Homo sapiens: one gene and its partners. The protein of the gene in region 6 interacts with the protein of the main gene of each other region in a biochemical or structural test. Each region holds a gene or a part of one and is shown on either strand. Other genes may lie near its edges.

What was found.
Region 1: the proteins of CDC42 (region 6) and VARS1 form a complex in vitro, tested with the Homo sapiens proteins (one large-scale study listed by BioGRID).
Region 2: the proteins of CDC42 (region 6) and DNMBP form a complex in vitro, tested with the Homo sapiens proteins (one large-scale study listed by BioGRID).
Region 3: the proteins of CDC42 (region 6) and WIPF1 form a complex in vitro, tested with the Homo sapiens proteins (one study listed by BioGRID).
Region 4: the proteins of CDC42 (region 6) and NUDT21 form a complex in vitro, tested with the Homo sapiens proteins (one large-scale study listed by BioGRID).
Region 5: the proteins of CDC42 (region 6) and XPO1 form a complex in vitro, tested with the Homo sapiens proteins (one large-scale study listed by BioGRID).
Region 7: the proteins of CDC42 (region 6) and EIF3F form a complex in vitro, tested with the Homo sapiens proteins (one large-scale study listed by BioGRID).

The regions. Positions count from the first base shown.
Region 1 is NC_000006.12:31,789,253-31,792,752, reverse strand, and holds part of VARS1 (valine--tRNA ligase), read left to right. Parts: intron 1-236; coding exon 237-361; intron 362-448; coding exon of another isoform or gene 449-451; coding exon 452-536; intron 537-781; coding exon 782-882; intron 883-1,015; coding exon 1,016-1,143; intron 1,144-3,500. UniProt on the Homo sapiens protein: Catalyzes the attachment of valine to tRNA(Val).
Region 2 is NC_000010.11:99,880,948-99,884,447, forward strand, and holds part of DNMBP (dynamin-binding protein), read right to left. Parts: intron 3,263-3,500; coding exon 3,064-3,262; intron 254-3,063; exon of another isoform or gene 156-253; intron 1-155. UniProt on the Homo sapiens protein: Plays a critical role as a guanine nucleotide exchange factor (GEF) for CDC42 in several intracellular processes associated with the actin and microtubule cytoskeleton.
Region 3 is NC_000002.12:174,587,805-174,591,304, forward strand, and holds part of WIPF1 (WAS/WASL-interacting protein family member 1), read right to left. Parts: intron 1-3,500. UniProt on the Homo sapiens protein: Plays a role in the reorganization of the actin cytoskeleton. Contributes with NCK1 and GRB2 in the recruitment and activation of WASL.
Region 4 is NC_000016.10:56,448,533-56,452,640, reverse strand, and holds the start of NUDT21 (cleavage and polyadenylation specificity factor subunit 5), read left to right. Parts: upstream 1-1,308; 5' UTR 1,309-1,438; coding exon 1,439-1,554; intron 1,555-4,108. Other genes in the region: prolyl 3-hydroxylase OGFOD1, read right to left, coding at 875-1,028. UniProt on the Homo sapiens protein: Component of the cleavage factor Im (CFIm) complex that functions as an activator of the pre-mRNA 3'-end cleavage and polyadenylation processing required for the maturation of pre-mRNA into functional mRNAs.
Region 5 is NC_000002.12:61,482,857-61,486,356, forward strand, and holds part of XPO1 (exportin-1), read right to left. Parts: intron 3,107-3,500; coding exon 2,912-3,106; intron 1,250-2,911; coding exon 1,081-1,249; exon of another isoform or gene 236-1,080; coding exon 101-235; exon of another isoform or gene 1-100. UniProt on the Homo sapiens protein: Mediates the nuclear export of cellular proteins (cargos) bearing a leucine-rich nuclear export signal (NES) and of RNAs.
Region 6 is NC_000001.11:22,076,709-22,080,208, forward strand, and holds part of CDC42 (cell division control protein 42 homolog isoform 1 precursor), read left to right. Parts: intron 1-1,720; 5' UTR 1,721-1,770; coding exon 1,771-1,875; intron 1,876-3,500. UniProt on the Homo sapiens protein: Plasma membrane-associated small GTPase which cycles between an active GTP-bound and an inactive GDP-bound state. In active state binds to a variety of effector proteins to regulate cellular responses. Involved in epithelial cell polarization processes.
Region 7 is NC_000011.10:7,990,337-7,993,836, reverse strand, and holds part of EIF3F (eukaryotic translation initiation factor 3 subunit F), read right to left. Parts: intron 2,057-3,500; coding exon 1,986-2,056; intron 1,754-1,985; coding exon 1,674-1,753; intron 951-1,673; coding exon 813-950; intron 1-812. UniProt on the Homo sapiens protein: Component of the eukaryotic translation initiation factor 3 (eIF-3) complex, which is required for several steps in the initiation of protein synthesis.

The DNA of each region.
Region 1 (3,500 bases), on a different chromosome or scaffold from region 6:
GGAAGGGCGAGGAGTTGGAGGATAGGGGCTTCCCTGGGGCCTTCCATGCAACTCACTTTCTTTTTTTCCTAGAAATGGCAGAATCACTGGGGCAGGGTCCTGCGGGAGAGGAGGGAGAGGGGGGAGGTCAGCATGGGCAAGACCTCGGGCATCTAAAATACCCCATCTGAAACCTAGTATGGCCGTCCAAGAGGGTCCCCAGCTGGCTGAGTCTGAATTTCTGCACCTCTCTCTAGGCCCCGAGGCTCCTGCCCTCCCAAAGACAGCTGCTCAGCTCAAGAAAGAGGCAAAGAAACGGGAGAAGCTAGAGAAATTCCAACAGAAGCAGAAGATCCAACAGCAGCAGCCACCTCCAGGGGAGGTGAGGCGAGGGTGGAGCTGGAAGGAAAGTTGATGTGTGCGGTGATGGGTTGGCTGATGCCTGGGCCTATGTCTTCTCCCTCCCAAGCAGAAGAAACCAAAACCAGAGAAGAGGGAGAAACGGGATCCTGGGGTCATTACCTATGACCTCCCAACCCCACCCGGGGAAAAGAAAGGTACTAGGAGTGGGAAGGGGCTCACCCCTCAGCAGCCCCTTCTAAGTTTTCACCCTATCTTGCTCTATTCTTGCTCTCACCACTTTGTTTGGTGAGGAATTGCAGACCCCCTGCCCTGCCTCTAGGCCCCTCAAATGCCTGTCCTATGATGTGAGTGACGGAGATCCCGATCCCTCTCTGCCAGCACGTCTCCTTCCCAGAGTGCTCCCAGCCACGGCACTGAGCCCTCCCTTCCTCTCCCCCAGATGTCAGTGGCCCCATGCCCGACTCCTACAGCCCTCGGTATGTGGAGGCTGCCTGGTACCCTTGGTGGGAGCAGCAGGGCTTCTTCAAGCCAGAGTATGGGGTGAGTAGGCACTGCTGCCCAGGCCCAGAGTGGGTGGGGTGGGGAAGGGCAGGACTGAAGGATGTGTTGCCTGGGAGGGGCTGGGAGAGGTGACCTGAGGCCTTAAACATGTGCCATCCTTCTCCACCATCAGCGTCCTAATGTGTCAGCAGCAAATCCCCGAGGTGTCTTCATGATGTGCATCCCACCCCCCAATGTGACAGGCTCCCTGCACCTGGGCCATGCACTCACCAACGCCATCCAGGACTCCCTGACTCGATGGTGAGCTTCTATCTGCACCTTCCTCTGGTTCCCTCTGCCTAGTCTGGCTCTCTCCTTTTCCCTGACAGCCCCCCGAGCCTCTCTCCTTCTGGGTTGGTGCTCACTTCTGCCCCCAGTGGTGCTACACTTCTCTCTGTCATTCCAATCTGATCATTTAGCTTCCTCTCCTAGTCCAGTACTCCCATGCAACACCGCCACTTGCAGACTCTCTTCTATCCCTTCTTTCTTTATTTAATTTTAATTTAATTTAATTTAATTTTTTGTAAAGATGAGTTTTCACTTTGTTGCTCAGTCTGGTCTCCAACTCCTGGCTCAAGTGATTCTCCTGTCTCAGACTCCCAGAGTGCTGGGATTATAGGTGTGAGGCACCACACCCAGTCTCTCCCTTCTTTTTCTAGTAACAATAACATTATTTTGAATTTAATTAGGAACATATGAATATATATATTTTTTTTTGGGGGGACAGAGTCTTGTTCTGTTGCCCAGGCCGGAGTGCAGTGACGCCATCTCGGCTCATGGCAACCGCTGCCTCCTGGGTTCAAGTGATTCTCCTGCCTCAGCCTCCCAAGTAGCTGGGATTACAGGAATGCGCCACCACAACTGACCAAAATATATGAATATATTCTTGTAAGAAATTTAAAGTTTCAAATCTCCTTGACCATCCCCCTCCACACCTACTTCCTCCTAAGATTTAGCCATTGTTATCACTTTGATGTGTATCTTCCCAGATCTTTCCTATTTACTTACATATACACGTACCCATAGAAATTTATAGTTCTCCTTTTGGGTGAGTCTTTTCTATTTTTTAACATAAAGGGTTCATATTACACTTGTTATGATCTAGCTTTCTTCTTACACTTAATACTTTCTCTTGGAGATCTTTCCTTGTCCTTACACACATACCACACATACTGACTTCCTTCTTTTTAATTGTTCCATAATATCTCATAGTGTGGCTGTACCATAGTGAAGTCATTCTTTTTTTTTTTTTTTTTTTTTTTTTTTTTGAGACAGAGTTTCACTCTTTTTGCTCAGGCTGGAGTACAGTGGCATGATCTCGGCTCACCGCAACCTCCACCTCCTAGGTTCAAGCGATTCTCTTGCCTCAGCCTCCCAAGTAGCTGGCATTACAGGCACCTGCCACCGCGCCTGGCTAATTTTTGTATTTTTAGTAGAGATGGGGTTTCACCATGTTGGCCAGGCTGGTCTCAAACTCCTGACCTCAGGTGATCTGCCTGCCTCGGCCTCCCAAAGTGCTGGGATTACAGGCGTGAGCCACTGCTCCCGGCCTGGAGTCACTTTTTAATTAATGATTCATTCTGTTTTTTGTTTTTTGTTTTTTTTCTGTTGAAAACCTTACTCTAATGCACATCCCTGTATATCAAGTTTGTCCAACCTGCAGCCTGTGGGCCACATGCGGCCCAGGACGGCTTTGAATGCAGCCTAACACAAATTTGTAAACTTTGTTTAAACATTTAAGAATTTTTTTGCGATTTTTTTTTTTTAGCTCATCAGCTATCGTTAGTGTTAGTGTATTTTTTTAAATTTATTTTTATTATTTATTTATTTATTTATTTTTTGAGACGGGTCTTGCACTGTCACCCAGGCTGGAGTGCAGTGGCACAGTCTCGGCTCACTGCAAGCTCCAAACTCCGCCTCCCACGTTAACGCCATTCTCCTGCCTCAGCCTCCCAAGTAGCTAGGACTACAGGTGCCCACCACCACGCCCGGCTAATTTTTTTTTTGTATTTTTAGTAGAGACGGGGTTTCACCATGTTAGCCAGGATGGTCTCGATCTCCTGACCTCGTGATCCGCCCGCCTCGGACTCCCAAAGTGCTGGGATTACAGGCGTGAGCCACTGCTCCCAGCCAGTGTTAGTGTATTTTATCTGTGGCCCAAGACAATTCTTCCATGTGGCCCAGGGAAGCCAAAAGATTGGATACCCCTGCTCTATATGCTTGCTGAAGCATGTGTGGAAGGGTTTCGCTGGTGTAGCTATCAAGAAGTGAAACTGCTAGGTCGGCAGGGGCACACCTATATTAAGTACAAACGGAAGCTGCCAAGTTGCCCTGCAGAATGGCTTTGCTGATTGATACCTCCAGGAATTGCTGTGAGAGTGTTCATTTCCCCACCCTTGCTAAGCCTGAGCATTAGGGTTGCCTAATTAGTTTTGCCAATCTGATGGGCAAAAAAATACCTCTGTTGTTTTACTTTGTACCTTTCTGATTGCTATTGAAGTTGTGCCTATTTTCATGTTTTTTGGCCAGTCAGGTTTACCCATATGTGAATTGTCTGTATCTATCTTTTCCCCGTTTTTCTATTGATTCTTCGTTCTTTTTCTTTTTAATTTTTTTTT
Region 2 (3,500 bases), on a different chromosome or scaffold from region 6:
GGGTACAGTGGCTCATACCTGTAATCCAGGCACTTTGGGTGGCTGAGGAGGGCAGATCACCAGAGGTCAGGAGTTCACAACCAGCCTGGCCAACATGGTGAAGCCCCGTCTCTATTAAAAATACGAAAATATTAGCCGGATGTGGTGGTGCGCACCTGTAATCCCAGCTACTCAGGAGGCTAAGGCAGGAGAATCGCTTGAACCCAGGAGCCAGATGTTGCAGTGAGCCAAGACCATGCCATTGCACTCCAACCTGGGCAACAAGAACGAAACTCCGTCTCAAAAAAAAAGCCTCAGCTCAAGAAGCCCCTCCATAGACCTCCCTGCCCTCTTTCCCACCAGGACACGTGAATCCTTTGCTCTGAGAGTCTGGATATACTGGAAGGATGTTCTAACGTAGGAAACTGTTTGTTAGAATATACACGTAACGTGTACTGCACATGGTTCACTTTAATAAATTGCCCAAGATGACCAAGGGGGCTTTCAGCTAAAACTCAAGTATAAATTAGGGATTGCGTGAGCATCCACGTGACAATTTTTCATAACACTGTCAAGGCACAGACCCAGAGTATGTAGCCTCCATGAGAACAATGGCCATTACTCTATTGATCTTTGATGCATTTCCTGTACCTGACAGCTGATCTGAATACTGTGGCTTCCTGCTACCACTTCTCAAGTTTGAGTAGATAAAAACTGAAGGATGGAGCAGTTTCTTAAACAGCTTGGGACTTTAGGTCCATCTGTCTCTGACCCCAGCAGTAGCTGTCACCTGATGTCACCCTAACAGGCTCCATCCTCTGTCCTTCGTGTCCCACTTTTAATCTCTCGTTCTGTGTAAGCAGAAGTGGGGAGAAAAAAAATCCACAAGATGCTTTTAAAGAAACCAAGAAATGTGACATTTTTCAGTTCTGGGTGGTGAATACATAATGTCTGTCTAGATAGGGACCACAATCCCTACCTAAAATGCTTAGGGCCAGATATGTTTTGGAATTCAGATTCTTTTTAATTCTGGGAAGGTAGTCAAGTACCCATACTACATATTTTGTAAAACCCCCCAGCAGGGTCAGCACCCCGTAATCAATTCTGTTAATGAATATTCAGAATGAGATCCTGTCATTTGCGGCCACATGGTTGAACCTGGAGGACACGTTAAGTGAAATGAGCCAGGCGCAGAAAGACAAATACCATATAATCTCATTCACGTGGAATCTAGACAAGTTGATCTCATAGAGGTTGAGAGTAGAATGCTAGATACCAGAGGCTGGGGGTGGTGGAAGGGGAGGTGAGTCTGGGGAGAGGTTGCTCAACAGGTACAAAGTTAGGAGAAATAAGCTCTGGTGTTCTATTGCACAGTAAGGTTACTATAGCTAATGATAATGTATATTTCAAGATGGCTAGAAGCCAAGGATTCTGAATGATATCTCTGCAAAGAAATGACAAGTTTATAGCCTGGGCAACACAGGGAGACTGTCTCTACTAAAATAAAATTAACTGGGCATGGTCACGCATGCCTCTGGTCCCAGCTACTCAGGAGGCCGAGACAGGAGGATTGCTTGAGCCTGGGAGGTGGAGGCTGCAGTGAGCCAAGATTGTGCCCCTACAATCCAGCCTGGGTGACAAAGCTAGACCCTATCTCAAAATTATCGCACCGTACCCCATAGATATGAACAAGTATGTGTCAGTTATAAACTAAAACTTAAAGTATCTCACATAATTGCAAATAGGAAAGTTCTGATGTTTTTGTGTCATTCATGTTGGAGATGTAGTCATCCACCCATGATGTGAGCAACCTCTTGGCTGAATCAGATTGCAATCAAGCATTTAAAAAAAAATAAGGCCAGGTGCCGTGGCTCATGCTTGTAATCCTGGCACTTTGGAAGGTCAAGGCGGGATGGAACACCTGAGGTTAGGAGTTGGAGACCAGCCTGGTCAACATGGTGAAACCCCGTCTCTACAAAAAATACAAACAGTTAGCCAGGTGTGGTGGTGCGTGCTACTTGTGAGGCTGAGGCAGGAGAATCGCTTGAAGGCAGAGGTTGCAGTGAGCTGAGATCGTGCTGCTGCACTCTAGCCTGGGTGACAGAGCTAGACCCTGTCTTAAAAAATAATAAAAATGAAAAATACATACACATGACTATTCACACCAAAAGGATAAGTTACAATTATAAATAGTCTCACATCACCTTCATTCAGGTTTTGGCAAAAGTGTTTTTAGAGCTTTTTGGATTTTGGAAAAAGGGATTACAGATCAGTATTATCCCTTGTACACTTACTTAAATTCTGTAAATCACTCTCCCTCCAAAAAAGTTGTAAGCTGTTTTTAAAGTAATTCCCTAAATAGTCATGAGGTAAAACTGTCATGGGGAGAAGAAAGCAAATGAAATCCCACAGGTTTTTAATTTCCACAAGACAAATTCATGGAAACTGGAAGAGGTGCTGGGTGCGGTGGCTCACACCTATAATCCCAGCATTTTAGGAGGTCCAGGCAGGAGGACGGCTTGAGCCTAGAAGTTGGAGACCAGCCTGGACAACATGGCAAGACGTAATATCTATAAAATTATTAAAAAATTAGCTGGGCATGATGGCATACCTGTAGTCCCAGCTAGGACAGGAGGATCCCTTGAACCCAGGAGTAATAAGCTATGATTGTGCCACTGCACTCCAGCCTGGATAACAGAGCAAGACTGCCACAAAAAAAAAAAAAAAAAAAAAAAAAAAAAATTTGAAAAGAGGGCAGCTTATTTTGTGGCATACTGGGAACAGGCTAAGAAGGAACAGGATTCCGTGAGGCAGGACTTCCTGCCTGTAAGTGCTGTAAGATATGGCAAGAGCTTGCATGATAAGCAACGGTGTCTCCTCTGGAATTTGTCAAAACAAAAAGAGGTTTTGTTTCAGTAATGATCTTCACTCTCTAGAGAAGGTTAAGGTTATTTTTCAGGTTATTTTTCCCCTTAATCAAAGATACTTTTTGCTTTTTTTTCCTGGCCTAGTCCAGATTCGGGTGCAGCCAAAACTACTATTTTTTTTTTCCAGTTACAGTCCTCTGCTGCTTAAAATTCTTACCTCCATTGTCAATCAGCCAGCGGTTCTGGCTGCCCATGGGGTCTTTTTTCTTAATCACACCCACCAGGTCACCTTCCAAAAGTGAGACATCCAAGTCTTGAGCAGCATTGAAGTTCCGTTCTGCCTGGAAGAGTTTTTCAGGGGGATACCTGGCCAGGAGGGAGGCCCGGAGTTCTTCTGACTGTAGCATGTAACTTGGCTGAAAGGTAAGACGTTAACAAAAATCTCTCAGTGGCCACTACCCCAGCAGCCATATTTCATCCCAACATGTGGCCAGTCTCAGAAATGAGGCAGGGACAGTCAGTCACTGCCCATCTCACTCCCATCAGATGTTTTTGTGATGAAGCCAGCCCATGTGGCTAGGTAAAAATCAAGAGCCCTTAGGCAATGTTTGATGCCTTTATAGTTAAGAAAATTTAACACACACCTATTCTTAC
Region 3 (3,500 bases), on a different chromosome or scaffold from region 6:
CTGCCTCACTCACTCACTGCCCTTTTAATGGTCTGATAAACACTTTCAGGCAGGCGAATTAGTGCCACAGCTCACCTGTTAACTAGGCTGGAATCTGTTTTCAGTAAGAGACTGTCTCAGGCAAGGATTCTTTTAAAGTCTGTTTCTTAAATTGCTCTTTCTGGCATGACATCAATTAGTCACCCATAGGGCCACATGGGCATTGTGAGCAGGACTGGGTGCCTGTGTTAGGGGGTCCTCCATCAAGGGGCATCTCCAGCGGCACATTCAGAGGCCTTGGAGTCAGACGTCTCCTAGGACCAGCAGGAACGAAAGGGATCTGATTCAGGCCTGACTACTGCGAAAGATGCTGGAGCCAAATCAATGGTATGATCAGAGTTGGGAAAGGCTTACCAAGGAAGGGGGATAGCCTGGTCTGCCCGGTGGGCCCAAGAGATGGGCTGTGGGAACAGTGCATCCACGTGCTTGGTTGATGAAAAATCCCTCAAGACTATTTTGTCTGACTCCACGTTCACCGATTAACTTTCTGTCATTCTGTGATCCTAATATCTAGGAAAGGGTGGATATTCTGGTCAACTAACAGGAACCTCTTATGGGTATGGTTGTCATGAGTTCGGCTCTCGTAACAGAGATCAAATTGAACTTCTGTCCTGCACAGCTTAGGGGGCAGACTGTGGAATGGGGACCCTTTCAGGGGCTGCCACCCTGAAAGGCCTCCTTAATTATTTTACAATTCTCTGTTGCTGCTGTTTTAGTACTGTCTGTGCACTAACTGACTTGTATATTAACTTCTGGATGACAGCTCCAGGGAGGGCGTGTTAACTTCATGGTCCAGAGGGCTAGTGTGGGAGAAATGGCAACAGTCATGGCTGGGGCCAGAGCCAAGGCCAGATTGCAGAAATTAGCAGGCAAAAACAAGGTTCAGGGAGCAAGATGCTATTAAAGGGTCTGAGGTATTGAAAGAAGTGCTGCCTTTCCTTCCTGGCCACTTCAGATGGACAGTGGGGAGAGGGTCTACGGGTGAGGGCTCTCACTTTTTAGAGGGTGATGCAGAACTAAGTGCTCTTTCCTCTCTTCCTCTGCGAACTTGTTTGCATGGCTTGCTTTCCCTGGCCCCATCTCTCACTCCCCTCCAGATTAACTGTCCCTTTCCAATCTCAATGGTAACACAGATGAGGGAGGCTGCCATGTCCTCTCTCCTCCCTTCTAGCTGAACAACTGCTGGGCACGGTCTGGACTTCTCCAGGCTGGGGCCTCAAGGGAAGTGTGTGAGAAACCCCAGACTCCAATACTGCCACCTCACTCAGCCCCTGGATCAAAGACCAAGCTCGTGTGCCCCAACACTGGGCCCACCGGCCACACCAGGCCCACTTCTTGGCTGTCTTTCCACCAGCCTATGGACTCCATGGGGTCTTGCCAATACCTGGCACAAAGTAGGGTTCTTACTAAATATATATGCAGTGAAAGAACTGTGTATCACACAAACAAGCCGAGTGCTTGCCACTTGAAGGGCTCCCAGCATCACCCCACCGCACTGTGAGATCTGGGCAAAAGAATCAGCCCTATTTCAGAGGGGCTTGCTAGTGTTGCAGACTGGAACTTACTTTCCTGGCAGCCTCCAACTTCCCCAGAGAAGTAGAGCCCCAAGGCCCTGGGAGAGGAGGGCTTCCCTCCTCTCATGGACTTGACAGCCCACATCAGAGCCACAGCCAGATCTTACTGAAGGCCTTGGCCCTAGAGCACGGATCCTAACAGACCAGGCATTCCTGCCTGGATCCTCACACCCAGAGTCTGTGGATAGAATTCAAGGGTTCATGAACTTGTATGAAAAAAAAGTACATATTATTTCTACTAAGCACTAACTGAAATGTAGCATTTCCTTTGATTATGAATGCAGGCCACAAACCATAATATCTGATATTCTTTCACCCATAGTTTTCACGTGATATTTCACATCATATTACAACTACACACCAACAATTTTCAACATGCTGGCAACGTTTAGATCCATTGCTAGATCTTGTTGTTTAAACCATTAATAAAGAAGTACATATTTTAATAAATTAGTTTCCTTTGTAATTCTCTGTATTTTATTTTATGCATTTAAACGTAGACACAAAAGGGTCCCTTTGGGACTGGGAGTGGTGACTTATGCCTATAATCCCAACACTTTGGGTGGTCAAGGTGGGAGGACTGCTTGAGCCCAGGAGTTTAAGACTAGCTTGGGCTACAAAGTGAGCCCTTTATCTCTAAAAATAAAATAAAATAAAATAAAAACAAATTAAAATTAAATTTTTTAAAAAAAGGAGTCCTTTGGGCTTTACCAGTGGGTTTATAGAATGAAAAAGGGAGAACATGAGACCTTGGTCAGGCAAATTTGGTTCTGAATCCTTGCTCTGCCACCTGGCAGATTCAGATGGGAATTTGTTTTTCCCATCTGTTAAATGGGAAGTTGCTGAGCAGATTAAATGAAATGGTGTGTGCAAGGCTTTCAGCATGGCCTGGGGGAGCAAAGCTGTCAGTGGACAGGGCTTAGCTCTGTCCTTCAGAGGGTGAGGATGGGTCCTGCTGGTACAAGCTGCTGAGTGCCTGGCAGAGGAGGGATGGACCTGGAGGCTAGTCTGAGGGGCCACAGCTTTGCTCAGTGGCTGTGGGTGGATCTGCCTGGGTGGGAATGAGGCTGACTGATGACTGGGCCTCCCAGCATTTGGTTCTTCCCTTGGAGATGGGAGCATGGCAGGAAAGGCAGCTGATTCGGGTGCAGGAGAGACGCAAGAAGGGAAGGGACTCAGCAGCAGTTTCCCAGTGTGGTCAGTCATCTCCTGCATCAGAATCTGCTGTGCCTGTGTCCGGCTTCCCAGACTAGTTGGGCTCTCAGTAGTGTCGGATCACATGCCTACCCACTTGCTGGGCCTTGCCCTCCTACCCCACCCCAACCCAAGCAATGAACTTTTAAGAAGTCACACTTTTCAGAATTAATTTCTTTTTAAGAATAATTTCAATGTTAAGTAACTTTCATGATAGAAAAGCCAGACTTTCTAAAATCTTTACTTGGTGTGTTGACTTCTACAAACACAAAGAAAACTCAAGGGACAGAAAAGGCTTTTGTTTTCACATACAGTATTACGGTCTGAACTATGTCCCCTGCAAAAGTGATATGCTGAATTCCTGACCCTCAGGACCTCAGAAGGCAACTGTATTTGGAGATAGGGTCTTTAAAGAGGTGATTAAGCTAAAATGAGGCCATTGGGTGAGATCTTAATCCAATTTGACTGGTGTCCTCATACAAAGAGGAAGAGACATCAGGCATGTGCTCACACAGAGGAAAGTCTTCAAGTGAAGACGCAGTGAGAAGGTGGCAAACCAAGGAAAGAGGCTTCAGAACACACCAAACCTGCCCACATCTTGATCTTGGACTTCCAGCTTCCAGAGCTGGGAGAAAACAAATTTCTGTTATTTGATCTACCCAGGCTGTGGTATTTTATTATGGCAGTCCTAGC
Region 4 (4,108 bases), on a different chromosome or scaffold from region 6:
ATTCTACAGATGAAGAAACTGAGAGTACAGAGCCTGCACTTAAACACTAAGCTATCGTTTTCTATAGGCATCCAGCCTACCCAGGACTCACCTCTTCAAAGCACTTGACAACGGAAAGAAAAATTACGGCAAACTCTAGAAGGGGATGCCTGGCGCATGAAGCAGAGCTCTGAACACCTAAGGTGATATTTAAAGCTGAGGCTGGAATCGTTCAACGTAGGCGCCTTTCCTTGGTCAAAGCGCGTTTATTTTCATACATCATGGAGTCAAACTACAGGCGCGTAGAGACGAGTACACTAGGGAGTCAAGCTGGCAGCTCACGACAAATGCCCTGGCTAGACTCTCCTGGGACAGCTGAGCAATGCCCTTGCAGGAGAAATGACATCAGCCACTCCTGTATTTGTCCACATGTGTATTGGGCCTTACTCAGGGAAACATTTACTGAAGCCTGCAAGCATTAGTGTGTCGCTCCCATTCACCGACTTTCCGAGGTAAATATTATGAACTATCCCATTTTACTTAGGAAGCAACTGAAGTTTAATAAGGTTAATTCCATTGCCTGGCGACGCCCAATCAGGGGAGAGGATTCTAACTCAGTAATCTTTGACTCCAGAATGCAACTATCTCTTGCATACCCTCTGCTTCCCAAAACTCTCCGGCCTCCATTTCTCCCTCTTCTCACGTTTCTAAATTGCAACCGAATTTGGAGTGAAAGGGAGCAGCAGCCGAGGCAGGAGAGTAGGAGGTGGCCAAAGTCCTCTAAGAGCCTCTTCCCTTGCGGCCCCGCTGCCCAAGGCTGGGCGCGAGTCCCAGGGCTTTTTCAGAGATCCCTAGACCTCTGCGTGGCGGCCCCTCCCTGAGAGCACCCGGTTACCGTGACTGAACGGCGTCCTGCGGCTCCAGGCCTCAGCCACCTGCTTTTTCAAGGTTTCTTCCGTAACAGCGTCCGAAAACTCCGCCATCACCTCCTTCTTTCCCTTTTTTCCCACCCGGGCTGGGCCGGGCTCCGCTGGCCGCTTCCCATTCATCTCTTCCCAAGGCACAGAACCACGCCACGCAGATCAAGACGCTACCTTCCTGAGGGTACTGCAACTCCCGGCATGTCCCCTTTATCGTGTTTCCCGGCCCTACCCAATGGGAAGCACCAAAGTAAGAGAAGGCGGAACCTATACCCGGTTTACCAATGGGAGCTCCAGCTATTGCAGCCATCCCACCAGCAATTGGCCCACTGGAGCTCGGTCTGGCAGGCCACCGCCCCTCTACTTCCTGCCGCCAGAGGCTCCGGGTTCACTTCCGGCGTGCCTACGCCTCCTCTTGCGCTGTCCTGTTAATGGCGGGCAGTAGCCGCTGAGGGGATTGCAGATAACCGCTTCCCGCACGGGGAAAGTCTACCCTGCCTGCCACTTTCTGCTCGCCGTCAGCGCCGGAGCTCGCCAGCATGTCTGTGGTACCGCCCAATCGCTCGCAGACCGGCTGGCCCCGGGGGGTCACTCAGTTCGGCAACAAGTACATCCAGCAGACGAAGCCCCTCACCCTGGAGCGCACCATCAACCTGTAAGTGCGGCGCGGCCTTGGCGGGCATTTCTCTCGTGAAAGCTCCTATAGACTCTCCGACGCGCCCCCGGCTTTTCGGCGCGCTTCACGCCTCTGCACCTCCCCGCCTCCAACTCCCGCTGGCGGATGCGCGCCTTCCTCCCTCTCTCAGGCCCCTTTCTCATCCTCCAGCCTCCAGGGTTAGAGTCCTTTTCTGAAAGGAAGGCTTGTTCCCATCCTATGTATTCGGTCATAATGGGGAAAAACGGAGTTTGCTTTTAACTCATCCTTTCCCCACCTCTCCAGAGGTAACCGACTTCAAAATGTGTGTTTTTTTAATCCTTCCAGTGAATTGTTTATGCTTTCGCATCACGTACATGGTATTGCTTTGTGAGTGTTGATGTGATACGAATGGTATAACCTAGTATCATTTTTGCAGATTTCACTCTGACAGTAAGGTTTCGAGATCTAGCTGTAATGCCTAGGTCTAGTTTTCTTCCTTTTAGGTGCCACTTAATACTTCAGTTTTTGAATACAACACATTTTATTCATGTGCTCAGGGCTGTCTGCCCTGCCCCATGCCTTATGCCTTCGCGTCGTCTGATGTCTCAATGCCGGCATCCCAGGCACCACAAGTAGGCCCCTCCTTGGGAGTAAGGATGCTGCTATGGTTGGGCTTTCAGACTGGAGGGAACCAGAATGTTTGTACCAGAAAACCCATTGTGGGCTGTGTTTTATTTTCAACACCTTTCTGTTTCAACACTTCAAACCATTGCATTTCAAGGTCATTCTCAGAAGCAGACTCGCTGTAGCAGGTAATTGGCGTTTGGGGTGTCTTAATCAAGAAATTGTCAGTAATGCTTTTTAAAATCGTTTCTGAGGATTTGTTTTCGAGGCAACGCGGTGCCTCCATTTTATGCCAGGATGGAGGAAAGTGGCCAGTTTATGCCAGTCAGGGTACAAGTGCAAGGATTTGGTGGTATTGATGTTTTCGTAAGGCAGTTTAGGTGTTTCTCTGTTTCATATTAAAATAAACGGACATTGTCTCCCCGTCCCCCAACCAAAAGTGATTTGAAGTTGAAAAGATGGTTAACATTGTTTTATTTTGCAAAACGTGTTGGCTTGGAAATTTAGATAATGGAAATGCTGGGTTTATAAAATCTGGAATTAGTTGATAGTTGTGTGTATAAAAGTTCTCAGGAGTGGCGGCTCACGACTGTACTCCCAGCACCTTGGGAGGCTGAGGTGGGAGGATCACTTGAGGCCAGGAGTTGGAGATCAGTCTGGGCAACATAGGCTGTCTCTACAAAAATTTTTTTAAAAATTAAGAAAAAATCCATCAAATGGTAAAGGCAAATGTTATCCTTTTTAAAAGTGTGAAAGCACAGCTTCTGGATTACTTTCGGTGGTTATTAGAACTAAAACCCACAGTCTTTTCTTGTTTTGTCTTGATTACTGAATTAATTTGCATCCAACCATTTTGTAGAATTGGCAAAATAGTTAGCTTTCAGTAAGATATTTTAATCTTCGCTCTATTAAAATTATGGGTTGATTTACAGTACATTTCCTCTCCTGTGTAAATACAAATATTCAGAAATAATAATTGTGTTGTGAACTTAAGTTCACCTGAGTTAACATTAAGTTGAAAACAAATGCCCTCTCCCCCAGTATATTTTATTTTAGGAAATATTGCATGAATGCCTACTTTGTACCAGGCACTGTGCACAATACTGGATATACAGTGGTGAGGAAGTAAGGTGTAGCCCCTGCTTTATGAAGCTCACAGTATGATGAGAACAATATGTATGTCTGGGCTGGCACTCTGATTTCACAGGTGAAAATTCTGACATTTCATCTTCACATCTCCTTACTGATATATTGGAGCTGGCTCTTGCAACAGAGATGTGTAATGGCTATCCTTAATTCTTTCTAACTCAGGTTGTCAGAATTAAATGTTAATATATGTAAAGCGTTTTAAAAAATTGCTTGGCACGTCGTTCTATGTAGCATATCTGCTGCTGCTATGGATGATGGTTTTAGATTTAGCATTGGATCTACCGGGGATGTTCTTTAAATTTTTAAAGCATCCTGGAATGGTATATTTTAATTATTTTAGAGCTTTTTCATATGCCTAGAACTTGGCTTCTGGAATTAAAGTAATTTTTAAAGTTTTGGCAACCTTGATTTTTTCCCCTTTCAAGAATGGCTGAGTGGGGTAGATACAATAATGTTGACTATTAATGTCAAGGGCTTTTGGTAGAATAGATACCTTGGATGGGCAAATGTGGCCTAAATTCGTACTCAAAGGCTTCTTGCTGTAAGGCTTTAATTAAGGGCTTACAACATATAAGTATGGATTTTTTAACTATCTTTAAAGAAAAATTTGATCCTTATTAGGCAAGATGAAAACTGTCTTTAACAGTTTGAGCCATATTTTAAATTATTGGTAAAGGAAGAGAGTTTTCGATTAGATATGGTGGGTAGAAGATTCAGATGAGGAGAAGGAAACAATAAGGAGACTGAATAGAATAAATGCCAAAGGCTAGTAAATAGGTTTAGAGGACAAAAAGAGAAA
Region 5 (3,500 bases), on a different chromosome or scaffold from region 6:
TCATAATCTCCCCGCCTCGACCTCCCAAAGTGCTGGGATTATAGGCGTGAGGCCCTGTGCCCAGCTGGCACTTAACATTTAAATCGTATTAAATTCTTACCAGCAGTATGTGAAGTGTCTGTCACAACAGAAAAGATATGCTGGAGAATATCACAAAAATAAGTTTGATAAAAACTCTGAGCTGCAGCTTCTTCTTGTGCAACATTTTGTAAGAGTGTAAAAAGTATCTGTAAGCCTAAAAGACATAGAATACCAATGGAAAGTTACTACAGACTGACAGCACTCATGATAGTATTTAGCTCTTATCAAAGTATTCTGAATCTAACCCTGTTCTCCCTTTTTTTTGGGATGATGACTAATAATTACTTGCATAAGGTTTCTTAAATTAATAATGGAATACAACTATATCCAATGCTGGCTTACTTATAAATTATAATAAGTTGTGTGAGAGCTAAACTGTGAAGATGTAAAGGCATAAAGATCATATAATGGACTTTGGGGACTTGTGGGGAAGGGCAGGAGTGGGTGAGGGATAAGACTACACATAAGGTGGAGTTCATACACATGAGGGATAAGACTACACATAAAGTAGAGTTCATACTGCTCACATGACAGGTGCACCAAAATCTCAGAAATCACCACTGAAGAACTTATTCATGTAACCAAAAACCACCTGTTCCCCAAAAACTATTGAAATAAAAAAAGAACCTCATGAATATTTTTTAAAAGCCTATGGGAAAAAAATTACAATCTAAGTTATGACTATTACCACCCTTTCACCATTTCTGAAAGCTCAGCTGATTCTATATGAACTTCTACAACATCACTACCCAGTAGAACTTTGTATTACGCAAACCAATTATTACTAGGCCGCTCTCCCCATAACTCAATTCTGCCTATGGACTCACTTGGAGTGGAGTGGAACAGTTGATTAAACTGCTTATAGGATTTTCTCAGATGTTCATATATGTAATTCACACACTCAAAACTCTGAACAAGTAATACCTTCCTATGTACAATTAACTATATTTGTATTTTTGGATTGGCAGGCAAATGAATAAAAGAACATCTTTTATTTACCCGTATCTGCGACATTCCTCATAGTATGTTTGAAAGCCCAAATGATGGAATCCAAAACAAGTTTAAACTGTGTAGGTGGAATAGCAAGGAATGCTGGGAAACAATGAGAATTGACAGCCTGAAGTAGTAAGAAAAAGTTCGTTCTATGTTCAGGATATTCTTCAAAGTCCTAAAAATAAGTGGTGGAAACAAAATAATGTTTCAGTGTCTTTGTTGTGCTAGACAGGAGGGGAAAAGCAAGGCTTAATCCAGTATAAATATTTGGAGTTTTCAATAAACCACAGAAGATAGAATGCCTCCTGAAAGGTAAACCCAAGTAAAATACAATCCACCTCTCACGGAAAATGAAACTGTCCCGTTACGCACATGAGTTATCAAATTGAAGGAGAAAGACAACCTTTTTAATAGAGAACTCATCTAAACCATTATTACCATAAGACTACTACTATCACTTTTGTTTTTAATTTGAAATCACCACTACAGATTACAAAAAAATTTAAGTTACCGTGTAAATGTGTCCACTTAACGTATCTTTTATCTCTTTTTTCTTTTTAAACAGTCTCACTCTGTCACCCAGGCTGTAGTGCAGTGGCGCAATCTCAGCTGACTGCAACCTCCGCCTCCTGGGTTCAAGAGATTCTCCTGCCTCAGCCTCCCGAGTAGCTGGGACTACAGGCATGCGGCACCATGCCCAGCTAATTTTTTTTCTTTAGACAGAGTCTTGCTCTGTCACCCAGGCTGGAGTGCGTGGCGCGATCTTGGCTCACTGCAAGCTCCGCCTCCCGGGTTCATGCCATTCTCCTGCCTCAGCCTCTCCGAGTAGCTGGGACTACAGGCGCCCACCACCACACCCGGATAATTTTTTGTATTTTTAGTAGAGACAGGGTTTCACCATGGTCTCCATCTCCTGACCTCGTGATCTGCCCACCTCGGCCTCCCAAAGTGCTGGGATTACAAGCGTGAGCCACGGCACCCAGCCTAATCTTTGAGTAGAGATGGGGTTTCACCATGTTGGTCAGGCTGGTCTTGAAATCCTGACCTCAGGTGATCCACCGGCCTCGGCCTCTCAAAGTGTTGGGATTACAGGTGTTGAGCCACCACGCCTGGCCATTTTTGTATTTTTAATAGAGATGGGGTTTTGCCACGTTAGGCAGGCTGGTCTTGAACTCCCGACCTCAGGTCATCCGCCCGCCTTGGCCTTCTGAAGTGCTGGGATTACAGGTGTAAGCCACCATGGCCAGCCTATTTTCTCTTGTTAACACATTTTTCAGTTTCTTATAAGCATATACTACACTTTTATAATTGAAACATGCAGACTTACTTTCTCATTTATTCAAACCAATTAATACAACTACGTTCATAAAAGGATGCCCCGACCTATGAGGTTTCAATAAATGCTACATACCATGTGAATGCTAAAATCTGTTTTCCATATTTACTTTTTACCAATCAAGATTCTGTGTAGTAAATTCTTCTTCTTGGAGTGCAGTGGCGCAATCTCAGCTCACTGCCATCTTGAACTCCCAGGCTCAAGTGACCCCCCCCCCCACTTCAGCCTTTCGAGTAGTTGGGACTACCGGCACATGCCACCATGACTGGTTACTTTTTGAACTTTTTGTAGAGATGAAGTCTCACTATATTGCCCAGGTTGGTTTCAAACTCCTGGGAAGTAAGTTCTTGAAAACCAAGAAAGTATTTCCCTAATATACAAGTTTAAATATTTAAACTCCATGGCATTAAAATTATGTTATATCCACAGACATACTTTAGCTTTCAAGAATTAAGGCTATCCTGCAGAATTTCCCCCTTACATAACTGAAATATTACACACCTTATTTATCATATTCAATGTGCATTCAAAAACAGCATCAAATATTTGAGGTATTTCAGCTGTTATATGTCCCCCTAACTTGTTGACAATTATGGCCATAGTACTAAGCACTTCTGGTTCTCTAGCAGCTGGGACATTTCTCTGATAATCAATGAGAACTGCATCCAACAGAGGGGGAACAAAATTTTCAGCGACCTGTTGGGGAGGGAAAAAAAAGTTATGTTTTAATTTAGGTACATGGTGACTATTTTAAACAACAAGGTTATTCCTGTCTATGAGATGTAGCATGATCATCTACTGAAAACAGGAAAATCTTGTGTTTGTATTAGGGTTTCCTACGTCAAAACAGTTTTTAGCAAAAGAAAGCAGGAAATCACAATGGGTTGGGAAGTCTCATGGACACACTGTCATTCAAGACTTTTTTTTTTTGAGACAGTCTCACTGTCACTCAGACCAGAGTGCAGTGGCAAATCTCTGCTCACTGCAACCTCCACCTCCCAGGTTCAAGCAATTCTTGTGCCTCAGTCTCCTGAGTAGCTGGGACTATAGGTATAGCACCATGCCCAGCTACAAAACTCTCACAATAAGA
Region 6 (3,500 bases):
AGATTTAACCAGTAATTGATTGATCTTAGGGATCAGGGTTGTTAATCTTTAATGCTGTATTAGTTAGTATGGGTGCTTCTTAGTGCATAAAAGGGAAAGGAGAAGGAAAAAGGAGATATAAAAGGAAGTTGAATAAAGAAGGATAAATATGGCTGGCTGCGGTGGCTCATGCATGTAATCCCAGCACTCTGGGACTTTGGGAGGCCGAGGTGAGTGGATTGCTTGAGTCCAGGAATTCAAGACCAGCCTGGGTAACAGTGAGACCCGTCTCTTAAAAAAACAAAAACCAAACAAAAACCCAGCCGGGCATGGTGGCATGCGTCTGTGGTTCCAGCTACTTGGGAGGCCAAGGTGGGAGGATTGCTTGAGTCTGGGAGGTGGAGGTTGCAGTGAGCTGAGGTTGTGCCACTGCACTCCAGCCTGGGTGACGGGAGTAAAACCCTGTCTAAAAAAAAGAAAAATATACTGCAGATAATTTTGATGAGGAGCGGGAGAGTGTATATTTCATGTGAGTTACTCACACTAATGTAGTTTCATGTTCTTTTGTTTCGTGATTTTTGCATCCAATCAACAACTCACAGTGTGTCAGTCTAGAAGTGCTCAGTGCTAGAAGTATAGTGGTGCATGAGGTAGTATAGGTTCATTTACAGGGATGTTAATAGGCATTTATAAATTGTTATGATTAATTGTTGTGAATGGTGCTATAGGAGCATGGTGGCATCTGACCAAGAGTTAGGTGGTTCTGTATTTTTATGTTTAATTATAACCCCTTTAGGATTATAATTTAAATTAATTTAAATATAAATCTTAAAATTTAGGTACATATTGGGTGGTGTTTCTTTTTATTCTTTCAGAAAACTGTTAAAGTATTTCATTGAATCTAAGATTCCAATTTCATAGAAGTCAAAATGTGGGGGAAAAATGGCTGATAATGATTCTAAGAGACTCAAAGATACATTCTGACTTTAGAGATGTTAACATGAAAAAAAGCATCTCAAATTAATGACTCTTTGGTACTTGTAATTGATAGCTTCTTAAAATGGAGGAGGACTCTAGTAAGAGAAGCTATAGTATCTGTTTATAAGTCAGTATGCTTTAGAGCAATCTGACTTTTTCATTATAAAAATGTAGGTTTTGGACTAGGCATTCTGGTGCTAAAACAGCTGCTGAGGCCAGCGATCACCCTGTTCTTTGTTCAGTTCCTCACGTTACTCATATAATTACCGTGTGATCGTGTGGTGCTCTGCTGCTTGTTGGTCAGAGCCTGAGTAAGGCTGAATAAGGCTGGATCATGAACCATTCTTTAAAGCAGTGGCCTTTGTATTGCAGTCTAGTTGACATACATGCATACATACAGGTGTGTGTGCACGTGTAACTGAAGAACAGCTTTCACAAAATAATATTTAGCACACTGTGGAATTTTCTCTGATACAGCCTCTTCTCTTTCATGATAAAAATAAATTCGCTGATTATCACACCACTTTGGACCTTTTAAAAATAACACTTAAGAAGTTGGAATAGCCAGGGATCAGAAACTTAGAAATGGACCTTATTTGTTATTGTAACTTATAGCAAGTCATTGTGTCTCTTATTGGGTTCTTTTAGCCATAATAATTGTGCTAGTTCTTTTCTTGCTCTGAGTGCCTGAACCTGTTGCTAAGTGAGGAAGAAAAATCCATATGTAAGTATAAATAAACAAATGTCTTTAATCTTTTTGCAGGTCATCATCAGATTTGAAATATTTAAAGTGGATACAAAACTATTTCAGCAATGCAGACAATTAAGTGTGTTGTTGTGGGCGATGGTGCTGTTGGTAAAACATGTCTCCTGATATCCTACACAACAAACAAATTTCCATCGGAATATGTACCGACTGTAAGTATAAAGGCTTCCTTCTGTTAGTAAAATGTTGTAAAATTTGATATCCTTTTGAAAACGCTTTCTCTATGTGTACTGAATTTTTTTCTGTTGTCTGCCTTTGTTTCCTGTTTTTAAAGATCTTGACTTCTCATGGGTAAATTATATACACTTTAAACAGCTGAAAAATCAGTGGAAAGTCAGAAGGGGTGACACAGGGTTTGCAAGAAGTGCTGGGAGGCAAAACTCCAGTAGACAAGATTCTAACGAGTGGTGGTCTCAATTTGGTGAAGTATGCCCTACATCTTGGAATGAGGTGACTTTTTTTTTTTTTTTTTTGATATTTTGGCCAATTATTGATCAGTACTTGGAGGTCTCCTGGGATACCATTTGAGGTCCTGTAACTTGAGAGAAAGTAGTATGTGTCTCCACTTTTCTTGTGGAGCTGTTCGCTTAGCAGTAATGGAGCTCCAAACTGGTTCTTAGGGGCAGAGAAGAGAAGACCTGTTATGTTTCGAGAACACCAACAGAGTCCTTTGGGGGTCACTCCCACAACTGTTCTTTTCTTTTTTTCTTTTTTTTTTTTTTTTTGAGATGGAGTCTCTATCGTCCATTCTATCTGGAGTGCAGTAGCGCGATCTCGGCTTGCTGCACCCTCCGCCTCCCGGGTTCAAGCAGTTCTCCTGCCTCAGCCTCCTGAGTAGCTGGGATTACAGGCGCCCGCCACCACGCCTTTCTAATTTTTGTATTTTTAGTAGAAACGGGGTTTTACCATGTTGGCCAGGCTGGTCTTGAACTCCTGACCTCAAATGATCCACCTGCCTCAGCCTCCCAAAGTGCTGGGATTACAGGCGTGAGCCACCATGCCTGGCCCCATAACTGTTTTTTAAATCAACTCTTTGGAATGGTAGAAGGAAGATGGGAATAACAAAAATATTGAAGTGAGAGAGAGACAAGAGTTAGAGTAACACTCATTTGTGAAAGGTAGTGAGACCCTGTCTCAAAAATAAGGAAAGTTTTTTTTTTGAAGGGGGGAGAATTTGAAGGTATTATTAAACACTAAAATCATATTGATATTTTGAATTGGCTCATTTGGAGACAAGATAAATGGAAGACGTTTTGAGGTTCAGTGGACTTACAGGGGACATTTAGAGGTACATGAATCTTGTTTCAGAGTGAGGACAGCTATCAGAATTTTTCTGTTTCAGTCTCCATTGAAGTTATTTACTTGTAAACATAATTTCTGAGTCTTTTATGACTTTGATCTTCTGGTGTTATATTTTAAGTGGGCTTGTGGGTGTTTTATATGTATGTTTGTGTTGTACATCTCTGGAAAAGTGATAGAGTGGAAGGAAGAGTAGTAGTAGAATAAAATTTTAAATGAACCGATTTAGGTAAATGAATGGACCATGAGGCACAAGTAATGTTCTCATGGTACCTGTTGAAGTTAATATGGAAATGGATTTGGTGTAGAATGCATTTAAGTTCCCATCTATGAGTTGGGGCTTGCCATTTCTAGAGTAATAGAAATTCAGAGCTGGATGGGACAATATATATTGTCTTACCCATCTCTTAATGGATGAGGGTACTCAGGCCCAATTTAGGGATGAGACTTAGAAGTCTAAGTTTAATTACTTAGCGTA
Region 7 (3,500 bases), on a different chromosome or scaffold from region 6:
TATACTGGATCTTGAGGAGTCTGAAATACCTGGGAAGGTTAAGAAGTCAGGCAATGGCTAGTGCTTAGTGGTATGCCAACTGGCTCATAAAGACTTGGCATCCACCATCTTTGTCTTACTGTGTACTGTGTAAGAGTTAACTGGCTATGTCAGTGTCAGACACAGAACCAGCACAAAATCAACAGCCTGACAGATGCACTAACAGCTGCCTTCCCTTTGACCATGGTCTTTCCAACTACCACAGCTGCTTCCTCAGCATGCCACCAGGGCCTTTCCCAACATCCCCCATAACTGGCATTTTAACCACCTGCAAGCTCAACGTGTTCACTGTAATGTCATTGTCATTAAAACTGCACTCAATCCTGGGTTAATAAATGTGTTCAAAATAAGGACAGTCATCCTTATAATCTGTATTACCCTGAGCGCTGTGCTGAGTTCTAGAGATAATGACAAACTAATGGGTAATTCAGAAAAGTAATGAATGTGGTGAAGGATCATGACAAGAATACCATGTGATGATTGGCTGTAGGAACTATGGAATAGTTAGGTCCTACAAAAGATGACTTGACAGCTTGCTCAAATACTTAAAAGGGCAATGAGTAGAAACTGGAGTACAACTAGGATCAGCGGTAGAAATTACAGGAACAGATTTTGTTTCAGAGTGAAACCTTTAGAATAACTGTTGAGAGAGAGGAACAGGCTTCCTAAGGACACAGCAAGTTACACATGGAAGGAATTAACCTTGCTTGGGGTGGGGGAGGGATGGCATCTGGGCATGGTTTTATGCCCTTGTAGCCCAAGACTGTGGTCACCTGACGTAGGCTTTGATGCTCATGCGGCCGTTCTGGAGACTTGTGTCCACAGTGAGGTGGATGGGGTTGGGGGCCTCTCGGCTGTAGTACTCGTGGATCAGCACAGAGTGCTCTGTGATGTCATGGCCCGTAGCGTACCTGTGAAATGGAACACAGTGGTGGACTCCTGTCTATATGTGGCGTCAATATCAAACACAACAGTGGCATGGGTGTCTTCAGGGTACCGGACACTTCTACGGTAGGACACCTAGTGACACCAACTGCCAAGAGCAATACACACACCGAAAACTATGTCAAATAAAATCAAAGGCTGACTTAGTGCTGATGAAAAATTCCAAGTCACTTACAAGGTAATTCGAAATATCCTGGCCCCACAGGATCAGAACCACCAGCAAAACCCACTGAATTCACAGTTCCTACAGGTAACACACTTTCCTTTTGTTTTTTAGAGACAGGGTCGCACTCTGTCACTCAGGCTGGAATGCAGTGGCAAGGCATGATCATAGCTCACTGCAACTTCAAATTCCTGGCCTCAAGTGATCCTCTAGCCTCAGCCTCCTGAATAGCTAGGACTATAGGTGTGTGTCATCATGCCTGGCTAAGTTTTTAAAAAATGTTTTTGTAGAGACAGGGTCTCACTATTTTGTTCAGGCTGATCTTGAACTACTGGGCTCAAGTGATCCTCCTGCCTCAGCCTCCCAGCTGGGATTACAGGCATTGAGCCACTGCTCACAGTCAGTAATACACTTGCAATACTCTTGCCTCCAAAAGGAAGAGTATAAGATCCAGTCCAGTAGCAAAAGACACCGGCAATCACGAAGAGACCTTCCATTAACCCCAGCCCCCACCTCCCCAACTTACCAGCCCAGGATGAGCTCATTTGGAGAAACTTTTTTATGCAGTTCATACATATTCTTAGCAAATTCCATGTCAACAGCCACCTAAGAGGGAAGGCAGGAAAGCAAGCTAAGAAGCCAGAAGTCCAAAGAAAAATTGGTTAAAAAGGACAAGAGGCCACCCCCAATAAACAGAAGAGGCCCAGGAAGTACGTACAAATGGGAAGAAGCTCCTTGGCTACAGGAGCTCTAGTTATGAGTGTGGGAGGGACCGTGAGGGGAGCCGAGCAAATGAACAGCTAAAAACTGCAGAGGGACAGCTTGGATTCCCACTCACTTCATCTTCTGACTCATTGTGCGGCACTGAAAAGCAATTGGTGACCTCCACTGAGTGTTTGTCGACAGTTCCTGTGAAAGAGAGAATCGTCCATGTGTTATATAATCCTAGGGCTCCCAACAACCTCTGACTACTTTTGAAATGCTTTTGATGATCTCTTCAATGTCAATGAACACCTAACTGAACTCATTAGCTCCAAGTTTAGTCCGGTGCATCGATGGGACCAGAATTCTCCAGGGAACTGAAACTGTGGTGTGATCGCCAACTTCTCCCTCTAATCATCACCAAATAGGGTTTATTCTTCCTTTACAAGGTCTCCTTTTGCCTGTTACTCTCCACTACTAGCCTATTCCAGACCTTCACTCTACGGCCTTTTTTTTCAGCCTCTACACTTTCTCCCTGTAATTTAATCTGCAGAGCTACCTGGAATATTTTAATGGTTACATAGACTGCTAATATAGTGGCCAAGTTTCAGACACTGAGACGTCAGGAGCTTCATCTGTACCTCCCTTTAGCCATCTGGTCCCATGGTCAGTCTTAACCTTATCATCATCCAGAAATCTATCTGCGAACCTTAGAAGTCAGTCTTTTACCACAAACTTTTGTTCTAGTTCTGATACCTTTACTTCCATATTTCTTTTTTTCTTTTTTTTTTTTCTGAGACGAAATCTTGCTGTCGCCCAGGCTAGAGTGCAGTGGTGCAATCTCGGCTCACTGCAACCTCTGCCTCCAGGGTTCAAGTGATTCTCCTGCCTCAGCTTCCCGAGTAGCTGAGACTACAGGTGCGCATCACCACGCCCAGCTAATTTTTGTATTTTTACTAGAGACGGGGTTTCACCATGTTGGCCAGGCTGGTCTTGAACTACTGACCTCAAGTGATCTGCCTGCCTCAGCCTCCCAAAGTGCTGGGATTACAAGTGTGAGCCATGGTGCCCAGGCTGTATTTCTTTTATTTATTTATTTATTTATTTATTTATTTATTTATTCCCACTACATTTGTTTCTTGACCTAAGACCACTACGTTGAGTTTTCCATTCTCTTCTAATCTATTGGAACCTCCTACCCCAGGATTTAAAAGTTTCCCTCTCCACCAGAAACCACAGTGTTGTCTATATCTACCAGTGTTTATCTAATTCCAACTCACTATGGTTTCTGCTCCCTTCACTGAAACTATGTCCCTAAACCAAATGCACATATATCCTTTATCTTATTTGACCTCTCATCAGCGTTGAACAGACTTGACCACTTACTTCCCATCTTAAAACTTTCCTTCTAGTTTTCTTCCTACCTTTCTAATCTTGTTGGCTACTTCTTCCTGACTTTTTAGGTTTTTAGGGTTTTGTCTCTGTTCTCTTGTCTTTTTATTCAATGTTCCTTTTCTAGGCCAGGCCCTGATCTAGAAATGTTTTTTGTGAATAAAGTTTACACGCCAATTTTTTTATGGCTGCTTTCTTGCTACAAAGGCAGAATTAAGTAGTTGTGATAGAGACTGCACACAAAGCCTAAAATATTTAC